Regions from separate parts of the Homo sapiens genome. Here region 1 is linked to region 2. The links come from fine-mapping of genetic effects on gene expression. A gene starts in region 2. The other region holds a variant in brackets. All regions are shown on one strand. Distances are between the middles of the regions.

Region 1 (5,077 bases), 25 kb after region 2:
CCTCAATTTCCCCATCTGTGCCCTGGGGGCCGTACCGTAGGTGGGGCTGGGGATTCCTCTGGGTGGTCTCTCTTCTCATGGGGCCCAGGGATCTCAGGTCCCCTTCCATCTCCCAGAGCATCCCCTCCCCGGCCCCTGCTCTGTGGACAGTTAAAGGTTCCGTGGTAACAGATCCCACACCCGGCCCAAGCCCGCCTGGCCACCTGACACCTCGGCCTTCAAATATTCATGTGACACCTCCCACTCCTGGGGGCGGCAGCCTCAGCAGCCCCCGGTGTCCCAGGACAGCTGTGCTCCCTGCACTCTGCAGTTCGCGTCTGAGGGCCTCCGGGGCTGGGGCTGGGCGGTTGCTCCCCAGCCCACCGCGCACCAGGGTTCCTGGGCTGTGGGCACAGATTCCTGGAAGGAGTGAGGTGCGTGGGGGCCGGGCAGATGGGCTTTCAGACTGTGTTCCCTTCCCCGTGGCCCAGTGGGGTGAGGGTCCTGGAGGGGAGGTGGCCGAGGGGCCACCCAGCATCCTTGCTGGGAGGCAGCCTGTGCCACCTTGTCCATGAGCAAGGGAGGCTTAGGGAGGCCAGAGATTTGCTCAGGCAGGGCCAACTTCACTGCAGTCCGGCCCCGGTGCAGCAGGAAAATGGGGGCCCTGCATTCGGAAAGGAGAACGAATTTGAAGGCAGAGACAGCCGTGCATTCGAGCAAGCTGCAGCATGGGTCCCTCCCCCTCCCACGACGGGCCCTGGGCCCAGGCCACATGTCCAGAATCGTGGCCGATTTGAGTGCTCTGCTCTGCCCAGGGCTCTCACTAGCACTGACCCTGGAGCCCTGATGGCCACGTCTGGCTTCCAGTGCCCACTGGAGGGCAGGGACAAGAGCTTTGGTCTGACAGGCACAGTGGGGGAGGTGCCCAGAGGGACGGTGGCATGCGGCCCTGCTGGCTGGGGACAAGGGCTGCCCATGCCCTCGGCTGGTGGGCACATTGGGGACCCCATCCTAGTCCACTGCCCTTCCCTCTCCTCACCAGGTTTCTCACTTGGCCATCCACCCCCAAGACACTGACAGGCCCCATGTCAGGGCTGAAGTTCCAGGCGGACCACAGCACAGGAGTCAGGGCAGTCGGGGAGGGGGGTGTGCGGGAGAGTGTACGTGCGTGTGTGCAGGAGAGTACGTGTGTGTGTGTGCAGGAGAGTGTACGTGTGTGTGCAGGAGGGTACATGCGTGTGTGTGCAGGAGAGTGTACGTGCATGTGTGCAGGAGAGTGTACATGTGTGTGTGTGCAGGAGAGTACGTGCATGTGTGTGCAGGAGAGTACGTGCATGTGTGCAGGAGAGTACATGCATGTGTGTGCAGGAGAGTGTACATGCGTGTGTGCAGGAGAGTACGTGCGTGTGTGTGCAGGAGAGTGTACGTGCATGTGTGCAGGAGAGTACATGCATGTGTGTGCAGGAGAGCATACATGCGTGTGTGTGCATATGTGTGCACATGTCTTTGTGAGACCACAGGGCGCTGGGCACAGCTGGAAACCAGGCCCTAACCCAGTACCCGGAGCCCCAGAGCTCAGCTGCCTCCAGAGGGAGCCTGGAAGCTGAGCTTTGAGATGGGGGTGGCCCACCCAATAGAGGTGAAAGTGGGCGGGGAACCAAGGTGGGGTGCCAGGAAGTGATGGCACTCAGGCAGGAGATGACCCTGGGACAGAACCCTGATCAAGGACCTGCCCCTCTCCTGCCACCTCCTTACCTGTCCCAGCCCTTCTCAGATGCACAGGCTCCCCAAGGCTCGTCCACTGGGTGCCCCTGCCCCTGTCTAGGTGAGCAGGGAAGAGCCCACGGGGGTCCCCCACTGACCAGGCCCATTCACCCACAGGTGCCCCTGCTGATGACGCCCCCACCACCACCGTTCCCCCCACCTCCACTGTTGGCCACGAGGCGCTCCCTGGAGGATGGAAGAAGAGGAGGCCCAGGGCCAGGGAACCCCAGCCGTGAGTGCACAGCCCCAAGTGGGCCACCCAGGGCATGGGCCTGGGAGAGGGTGCCACTGGCCTCCCCTCCGAGGTCCTGGACCGGTGGGCAAGTCTGCGGGCAGCCGGGCACCCCATCACCCTCCCTCCCCAGTTGCTTCCAGGTTTCCTTGACTGTCTTTGGTGCTTTGGAAACATGAGGATTAGCATTTTCCGTGGTGGGCACTTACAGCTACAGCAACTTATCCAGGGGTAAAAGCGGGGAGACGGGCCGGTTGGGCCCAGGCCCCTTGTGGATGGGCTGCTGTCCCTCAGACCCCAGCACACCTCGCATGCATGGGCTAGCAGGGCAAGCAACAGTCCTCACGCTGTGGGCCACCACCATTAGGGGTCTGTGACCAGCTTGGAGTGGAGTGGAGTGGAGTGGAGTGGAGTGGAGTGGAGTGGAATGGAATTATCAACAGGTGCCACAGGTAGTGAGGGCGAGCTTCCTCCACGGGCCCTGCTGCGGCCCTGTACTCACATGTGGGAGTGTGCTTCTGTGTGTGATTGTGTCTGTGTGTTCTGTGTGTGATACACATAGATACGGGGACCCTTCTCTGTGTGTGATTGTGTCTGTGTGTGATTGTGTCTGTGTGTATCTGTGTATGTTGTGTCTGTGTCTGTGTGTCTGTGTGATTATGTCTGTGTGTATGTGTGTGATTGTTCATGTGTGTCTGTGTGTGACTATGTCTATGTGATTGTGTGTCTCTGTGATTGATTGTGTCTGTGTCTGTGTGATTGTGTCTGTGTGCATCTGTGTGTGATTGTGTTCGAGTGTGTGATCGTGTCTGTGATTGTGTCTCTCTGTGATTGTGTCTGTGTCTGTATTGTATGTATGTGTATGGTGATTGTGTGTTCTGTACATCTGTGTATTGTGTTTGTGTTTCTGTGCATGATTGTGTATCTGTGTGTGATTGTGTCTGTGTGTCTGTATGTGATTGTGTGTGTGATTGTGTCTGTGTGT[G/GTC]TCTTTGTGATTGTGTGTCTCTGTATGATTATGCCTGTGTATGTGTGTTTGTGTTTGTGTGTCTGTGTCAGTGTGTGATTGTGTCTATGTGATTGTGTGTATCTGTGTGATTGTGTGTCTGTTCTGTCTGTTTCTGTGTGTGATTGTGTCTATGCATCTGTGTGTGATTGTGCCTGTGTGTATCTGTGTGATTGTGTTTGTGTGTGTCTGTGATTGTGTCTGTGTGTATCTGTGTGTGATTGTGTCCGTGTCTGTGTGTCTGTTCTGTGTTTCTGTGTGATTGTGTCTGTGATTGTGTCTGTGTGATTGTGTGTATGTGATTGTGTCTGTGTATGCTTGTGTCTGTGTGTCTCTGCGTATGATTGTGTCTGTGTGTATCTGTGATTGTGTCTGTGTATCTGTGTGTGATTCTGTGTGATTGTGTTTGTGTATGTCTGTTCTGTGTCTGTGTGTTTCTCTGTGTGTGACTGTATCTGTGTGTGATTGTGTCTGCGTGTGTGATTGTGTCTGTATGTCTGTGTGATTGTGTGATTGTGTGTGTATGATCGTGTCTGTGTGTCTGTGATTGTGTGTGTCACTGTTATTGTGTGTCTGTGTGTATGTGTGTGATTGTGTCTATCTGTGTGTGATTGTGTATCTGTGTGTGATTGTGTTTGTGTGTCTGTTCTGTGTGTGTTTCTGTGATTGTATCTGTGTGTATAATTGTGTCTGTGTGTATGATTGTGTCTGTGTCTGTATGTGATGTGATTGTGTCTGTGTCTGTGTGATTGTGTCTGTGTTGTGTGTATGTGATTGTGTCTGTGCATGTCTGTGTGTGATTGTGTCTGTGCGTGTCTGCCTGGCTGTGATGCAGACGTGTTCTTCACTCGAGGTTGACCCTGAAGTGTGTGTTTTCATCGGGGCAGGGAGCATTGCAGGCAGCAAGGGAACCAGCTTTGGGGCCTGCAGAGCTGCGTTAGGGGCGGCCTCAAGCCCTTCCCAGCTCCTCCCCTGCTGCAGGAGGGGCCGCGGCGTGGCCCAGCGGTGTGCCGCAGGCTCTCCCATCGACCAGGCGGGGGCGGGCCCCACTGACTCCCCAGAGAAGGTCCAGTGGGGCCCCCGAGGTGTTCTGGGGCAGGGTGGGCTGGGGTCAGCTCCCAGCTCGCAGATCGTTCAGGAGGTCAGCTCTGCCCCCAGGGCCGGATCCCCGAGGCTCTGGGTCTCTGCTCCCCAGCCCTTGCCCTTTCTGCAACACCCTTCTTCTTCTTGGCAGCCATGTCCCTCAGCCCGGCCTGGCCTGGCCATCCTGACCAGCCTCTTCCCAGGGAGCAGATGACCAGCCCGGCCCCTCCGAGGATCATCACCAGTGCCACGGCTGACCCCGAGGTTCGTCCTCCACCCCTGCATTCCTGTCTCCCGGGGCCCCTAGCCAGCCTCCATTCCCATCCTCTTAGGGGCCCAGAGAAGCCCCCAGCACAGCCAGGCCTTTCCTGAAGGGTGGATGCCAGGCTGCCTGCGTCACTCCGCTGCTCTCGAGAACACCCTGAGTTCTGAAGAGACAGGAATGTCAGGGCGACGGCAGCTGTCCCCCCCACCACAGAAACACGGGGACCCTTCTCTGTTATCCCAGAGGGCTGCAGTGGCCCAGGCCCCTCTCCCTGACCTCTGAGCTCAGGGGTGCTCCGTGCCCGCTTGGAGTGCGGAGATCGCAGCAGCCATCCATGGGCAGGGCCCCGCTGCCACCGTCCTCCTCCTCAGGGCCTCGGCCAGCCCAGACCAGCAGAAGGGTCCTGCTCCCCCTTACTCTCCCTTTCCTGGGCGCCGGGCCCTTAGAAAGCCAGCCCAGACTTTCCCTGCGTGGTACTGCAGATTCTCAACCATTGAGGTGTTCGGTGGGAGTCTGGGAAACGCCACGTGGCGCTGCTGCCCGTCGTGGAGAGCTGGAGCGCGCACGGCACATTGAAGGCTCTGACAAGCCCTCCGCGGCACAGGATTGGCTGCCAGGCTTTGTCTATGTAGCTGTGCCCAGAGCAAGTTTGCCCAGGGATACGGTGCGCTCCGCGAGCATCTGCTGGGCTTGCACAGGGGACGGGGAGGGACCTCTGGTTTCATTTCTCTGCCGACAATCCCCTCACACA
Region 2 (5,077 bases):
CGCAGCTGGAGGACCAGGCCTAGCACTGGGGCCGCCTTCCCCACCCCGCTTCTGGGAAGCCCGTGGCAGGGCACAGGGTTGTCCCTCCAGTTCCCTCCTGAGGGCTGTGCCAGGATGACTGTCTCATGCCCCCTCTGCATTTTGTCCTGGAGTGCCAGCGAGTGTGCACCCCCAGTTTCCTTCCCTGGACCCCTGCAGAGCTCACAGGGCCCAGGACACCAACGCCGCATAGGACTGCCCACATGGGACCGCCCACATAGGACCGCCCACATAGGACCGCCCACATGGGACCGCCCACATGGGACCGCCCACATGGGACCGCCCACATAGAACCGTCCTCCAGTGGTGAAGCGGAAACACTTAGCTTTATCCACCCTCCCCACTGGGAACTGGGCACGCCTGTTGTGAGTGCCCTTTCCTGGAAGGTGTTTTTATCTGGAAGATAGAATCCAAGTATTTATAACTCATTGTCAGCCAAATGCTATCATGAACGTAGGAAACTTGATTTTTTTGTTTTGATCATGGCCTCTACATGCACCTTTCCAGAGTGGTCTCTTCTCAGGCCCTTTTTAGTCCCTTTCCAAAGCTGCCCCCACCACCCTGCTCCTCTGGCCTCAGTGCACAGTGGCCCCCAGCCTCGGCCAGGCCTGCTCTGCTCAGCGCCCACCGCCCACCACCCCTCCTGCTTCCCCGAGCCTGACCCTGTTCCGCCCACTGGCAATCAGGGCTGCGCACTTCCCTGTCCACGGTCCCCAGGCCTTCCTGTCTTGTCCCTTTTGATCATTATTAACTCAGGGTTTCAGCTCCAACCTCGCTGAGTTGGTGCAGCTCCAGGTCATTCCTGGGGTGGGAATCGGATCATCCCTGACTCAGCTTTTACCTTAATTTTATTTGCAGAGGATTCTTTTCTCAAAATGCTCTGGCATTTGGACACACATCACATGTCGATATTTGCATAGGAGTCATTTTCAGTGGAATAACATTTTTAATGTGTGGTTTTACGGTTCAAGGAACTACTTGATGATTTTGAGGAAACACTTGCCAGAAACTAAATTAACGAATAAAAGATTTCAGTGCCCGACTTGGGGATCCTGTGGTTTCTCTAGTGGGCACTGCGCTTGGGCACAAAGTCATCTGACAGAGCCTGTCGGGGGGAAGCCAGGGGTGCAGCAGCCCCCAGGTCACCATTGTGTGATGATGCGTTAGCCCAGAAATCCAGCTTGAGGCTGTGTCTCCGGAAGCCCCTACAAATGTAATGGGTCCCCCATCTGCAGCTTCCCATTGCTGCCAGGAAGAGGCTGTGGTGGTCCTGACTTCCCTAAAGAAGAACTATGGATTGTCCAGAACAATCTGGAAAGGGGTTAAATGTACTTGGGCCCTTGGGGCTGCAGCCCAGAGACTTGGTCCGTGTAGTTGGAGAGGGGGCCGAGGCAGGGGCTGACACCTTCTCGCCTCAGAGGCCTGGACACACCCAAGTCAGGGTCCTGAGCCCATTGCAGGCCCCGTGGAGCCACTGTGTCCCCAGAGATTCCTAGGAGCCTCCAGGGCCGAGGGCCGGGACCCAGAGGCGGGGCGCTCAGCTCTGTGGGTGTCAACACAGCCAAACATGTAGACCTACTGGGCACCCTTTACTTCAGACACACTGTGGTGGCGGCTGGGGGTCTGCCCTTCTGTGAGAGTTGGGGGAACTGTCTCCCAGGCCACTCGGGGCTCCTGTGAGAAGCTCAGTGGCGTGTATCCTCAGCCCTCGCTCCACAGATGAAGTTCCTGCCATCTGGACAGATCTGAGCAGCCTCAGGGCCAGCCTCCTTTCTCTGCTGGCCATACCCAGCCCTGACCTAGCCTGGTGTGGGCCTTTCCCTGTGCCCTGTACTCCATCCTCCCAGCTCCAGGCACCTGGCACCCTCACACTGTGGGAGTGGCTTGGGCAGGTCCTCAAGGCCTGTCCCCCCACCCGACCCCACCCCACCGCCTCCCATCTGCCCTGTGGCAGCTTATCGGGTAACCAGAGCCGGCAGCTTCATCCACGTCTGAAACAGGAAGCCCCAGCCTGTGCATGAGTCGCCACTGAGAGCCCGGGCCAGAGGATGGAGAAGCAGCGGGCACTCGTGGCCGCCAAGGATGGGGATGTGGCGACGTTGGAGCGGCTGCTGGAGGCTGGCGCCCTGGGCCCGGGCATCACCGATGCTCTGGGGGCCGGCCTGGTTCACCACGCCACCCGGGCTGGCCACCTGGACTGCGTCAAGTTCTTGGTGCAGCGGGCCCAGCTGCCCGGCAACCAGCGGGCCCACAACGGGGCCACCCCAGCGCATGACGCCGCTGCCACGGGCAGCCTGGCCGAGCTGTGCTGGCTGGTCCGCGAGGGGGGCTGCGGTCTGCAGGTGAGCGGGGATGGGGCAGCCTGGCTCCACGAAGCTGGCTGGGGTGGAACCAGGGAGGTGTGAGCCACGGAGGATCAGAGTACTGGCCACCCCGGGCTCCATGGCCCTGGGCCCTTTGTTTCTCTTGGGGACTCAGTCAGTGGTTACCGTCTCTGCCCCACGCCTCTCAGAGCACAAAGGCTTGAGAGCCAAGAACACCTCCTAAATTTTCTTATCACCTTCCCTGCCAGGAAGCTGGGCGTTGCCAGTGGGGGTCTTGCCAGATATCAGGACCCCTGTCTCTGATCAGGCCTGGTCCACAGGGCCTGCCTCCCAAAGGGTCTAGAAAGGGATCCTTACAGAAGCACTGTGGGAACTTGGGCTTGAGAGCTGGGAGCCTAGCCCTGGGGGACGGGAGTTAGGGCTGCTGATGGTGATCGTCTTGTCCGGATCGTTTCTACTGGGCCCCCCTCCCCTATCCTGCCTGCCCAGTCCCCTTTGTGCAGGCGAGGCCCTTAGAGCTGTCGCTCAGCCCTGTGGAGCTTTCAGGGCTGAGGGTGAGCAGGACTGACCGGCCTTAGAACGCCGCCGCCCAGAGGTCAGAGTTGAGGTGGGGGCCGGTGGGGCCTGCTTAGACTGCGGAGCGGGAAGGTTCCCCAGCACCTGGCTCGCCAGAGCACCTGAGAGTCCCGGCCCAGCATCCTGTTCCTGTCGGCCCTTCCGCCAAACCCAAGGGCAGCAGGCGGGAGCTGTGCCTGCCTGGGGATCCATTCTGACAGGGCCCTTGGAGAAGGCCCAGGTCTGCTGGACCCCTGACACCTGTGGTAGGAACGCTCCCTGGCCCCGGGACCCTGTGGCCAGCGGGAGGGCACTGGGGCAGGGGACCAGCCAGAGGTAGGTGTCCTGGGAAGCCTTTCTGACCATGAGCAGAGTGGGCAGGTGTCTGCGGGCACCCGACTGCGTGGGAAAGGGCCTTCTCCACACTGGGGACGGGCCCAGGAGAGGGCAGGGTTGCCAGAGGTGGCCTCCCAAGACCTGGACCTGAGTCCTGGCCCTCCTCTCACCTCAGTCCCAGCAGGGAGCACCTCCCTCCATGTTGCAGGCAGAAACGGAGGGAAGGAGGAAGGAGCTGGAAGCCCCTTCACTGGGTTGCAGGCAGTGTGAGCCCTCGCCCAGGGCCCACCTCCGGCAGCTGGCTCTGACCTCACGGCCTACCCCCCACTCACTGACCTACCCGGGGCTTGGTAGGACCAAGATGCCTCGGGCGTCTCCCCGCTGCACCTGGCCGCCCGTTTTGGACACCCAGTGCTGGTGGAGTGGCTGCTCCACGAGGGCCACTCGGCCACGCTAGAGACCCGGGAGGGAGCCCGGCCGCTGCACCACGCTGCCGTCAGTGGGGACCTGACCTGCCTCAAGCTCCTGACAGCCGCGCATGGCAGGTAAGGAGCCCAAAGTCCCGCCTGGGGGGGCAGCCTGGGGCGAGCTGGCCAAGGGGAGGCTGCACCATGGAGGGCCAAGAGGACAGGCTGGTGGCCTTTGAGGTGAATCCTGCAGGCGGGCATGCTGTCACTGTGGGGGTGAGCTGGCAGGAGCCAAGGGCAATGAGGCCTCTACCCACAGGCCAGGCAGTGGCAGTGCCATGCCAGGGCCCAAGGGGACACAGGCCAGTGCTTCAGCTTGGAGAGTGGCTGGGGGCGGTGACGATGGCAAGATGCTGCTGTGATGCCCAGGGCAGCTCTGGCCCCACCTGGGGGCATCTCGGGACCTAAAACAGCTGGGGACGTGGGCAGCTGGCAACCTGTGAGGGCACCCTCCCATCACCTGACAGGAGTGGGGACTGTCTAGTGGACTTGGGGACACAGAGGCTGGAGCTGCCTCTGCACTGCCCCACCCCTGTGCTGGGACCCCTAGAGCCGGGCGCTGGCCTCATCGTCTCTGGGGCCCTGTGCCCCCTGCTGGAATTAGTGGATGGGCAACGAGGAAGGACCAGGGTCAGGACAGCCAGTAAGGCAGATGGCCTCCCTCCCCACCTGGAAGCTCCTCCAGTCCTCGCCCTGCTTACAAAGGTCACTGTTGTCATAGGAACAGGCCCTCTGCCTCCTACTGTCTTGGCTGAGGGCGAACCTTCCTGTCCCCCAGGGACCCACCTACCTCTGACCACGGCTCTTCTCTTTTCGAGGCAGCATCTCATTTTCCTGTCGCTGCCCCAGAGGCCTCAGTCCCCCACACCCCCTTAGCTCCAGGACAAGCCCCGACAGCTTGCTTGTGGAATCGGGTTCTCATTCCCGGGTGTTCCCATCCTGGACTGCTTGGCAAAGGCCTTTGGGATTCGCTTCTGTGGCTTTTCTCCAGAGCGTCCACACCACCCTCAGCCTTGGCTGGCCACAGTCTCTCTCAGACCCACACGGCTTTTAAAGAAGTTTCCACCATTGAAAACTGGGAGACTTGGGCCGAGCACAGTGGCTCATGCCTGTAATCCCAGCATCTTGGGAGGCTGGGGCTGGAGGATTGCTTGAGCCCAGGAATTCAAGACTGGCCTGGGCAATGTAGCGAGACCTCCATCTCTACAAAAAAATTTATTTAAAAATTAGCCAGGCATGGTGGTGACTGCCTGTAGTCCCAGCAACTCAGGAGGCTGAGGTGGGAGGATCACTTGAGTCTGGGAGGCGGAGGTTGCAGTAAGCTGGGATTGTGCCACTGCACTCCAGCCTGGGCGA

What was found. PIP is the estimated chance that this variant, and not a neighbour inherited with it, causes the effect.
Region 1: its variant is fine-mapped to the expression of ESPNL in fibroblasts (GENCORD, PIP 0.95).

Annotation. Positions count from the first base shown.
Region 1 is chr2:238,123,410-238,128,486 of GRCh38, forward strand. ESPNL (espin like) reads left to right here. Exons shown (of 9, transcript NM_194312.4): 6 at 1,861-1,975; 7 at 4,213-4,325. Among named protein-coding and RNA genes, the nearest start is that of KLHL30, 13 kb to the right of the region's middle. RefSeq lists a silencer at 3,996-4,055. The variant G/GTC (reference allele first, on the strand shown) is at 2,961.
Region 2 is chr2:238,098,333-238,103,409 of GRCh38, forward strand. It overlaps ESPNL (espin like), which reads left to right and starts at 2,008. Exons shown (of 9, transcript NM_194312.4): 1 at 2,008-2,381; 2 at 3,609-3,799. The coding sequence starts at 2,088. SCLY (selenocysteine lyase) reads left to right here. Exons shown (of 12, transcript NM_016510.7): 12 at 1-1,081. The coding sequence ends at 23. It overlaps UBE2F-SCLY (UBE2F-SCLY readthrough (NMD candidate)), which reads left to right. Exons shown (of 19, transcript NR_037904.1): 19 at 1-1,081. RefSeq lists enhancers at 1-521, 156-450, 4,216-4,385.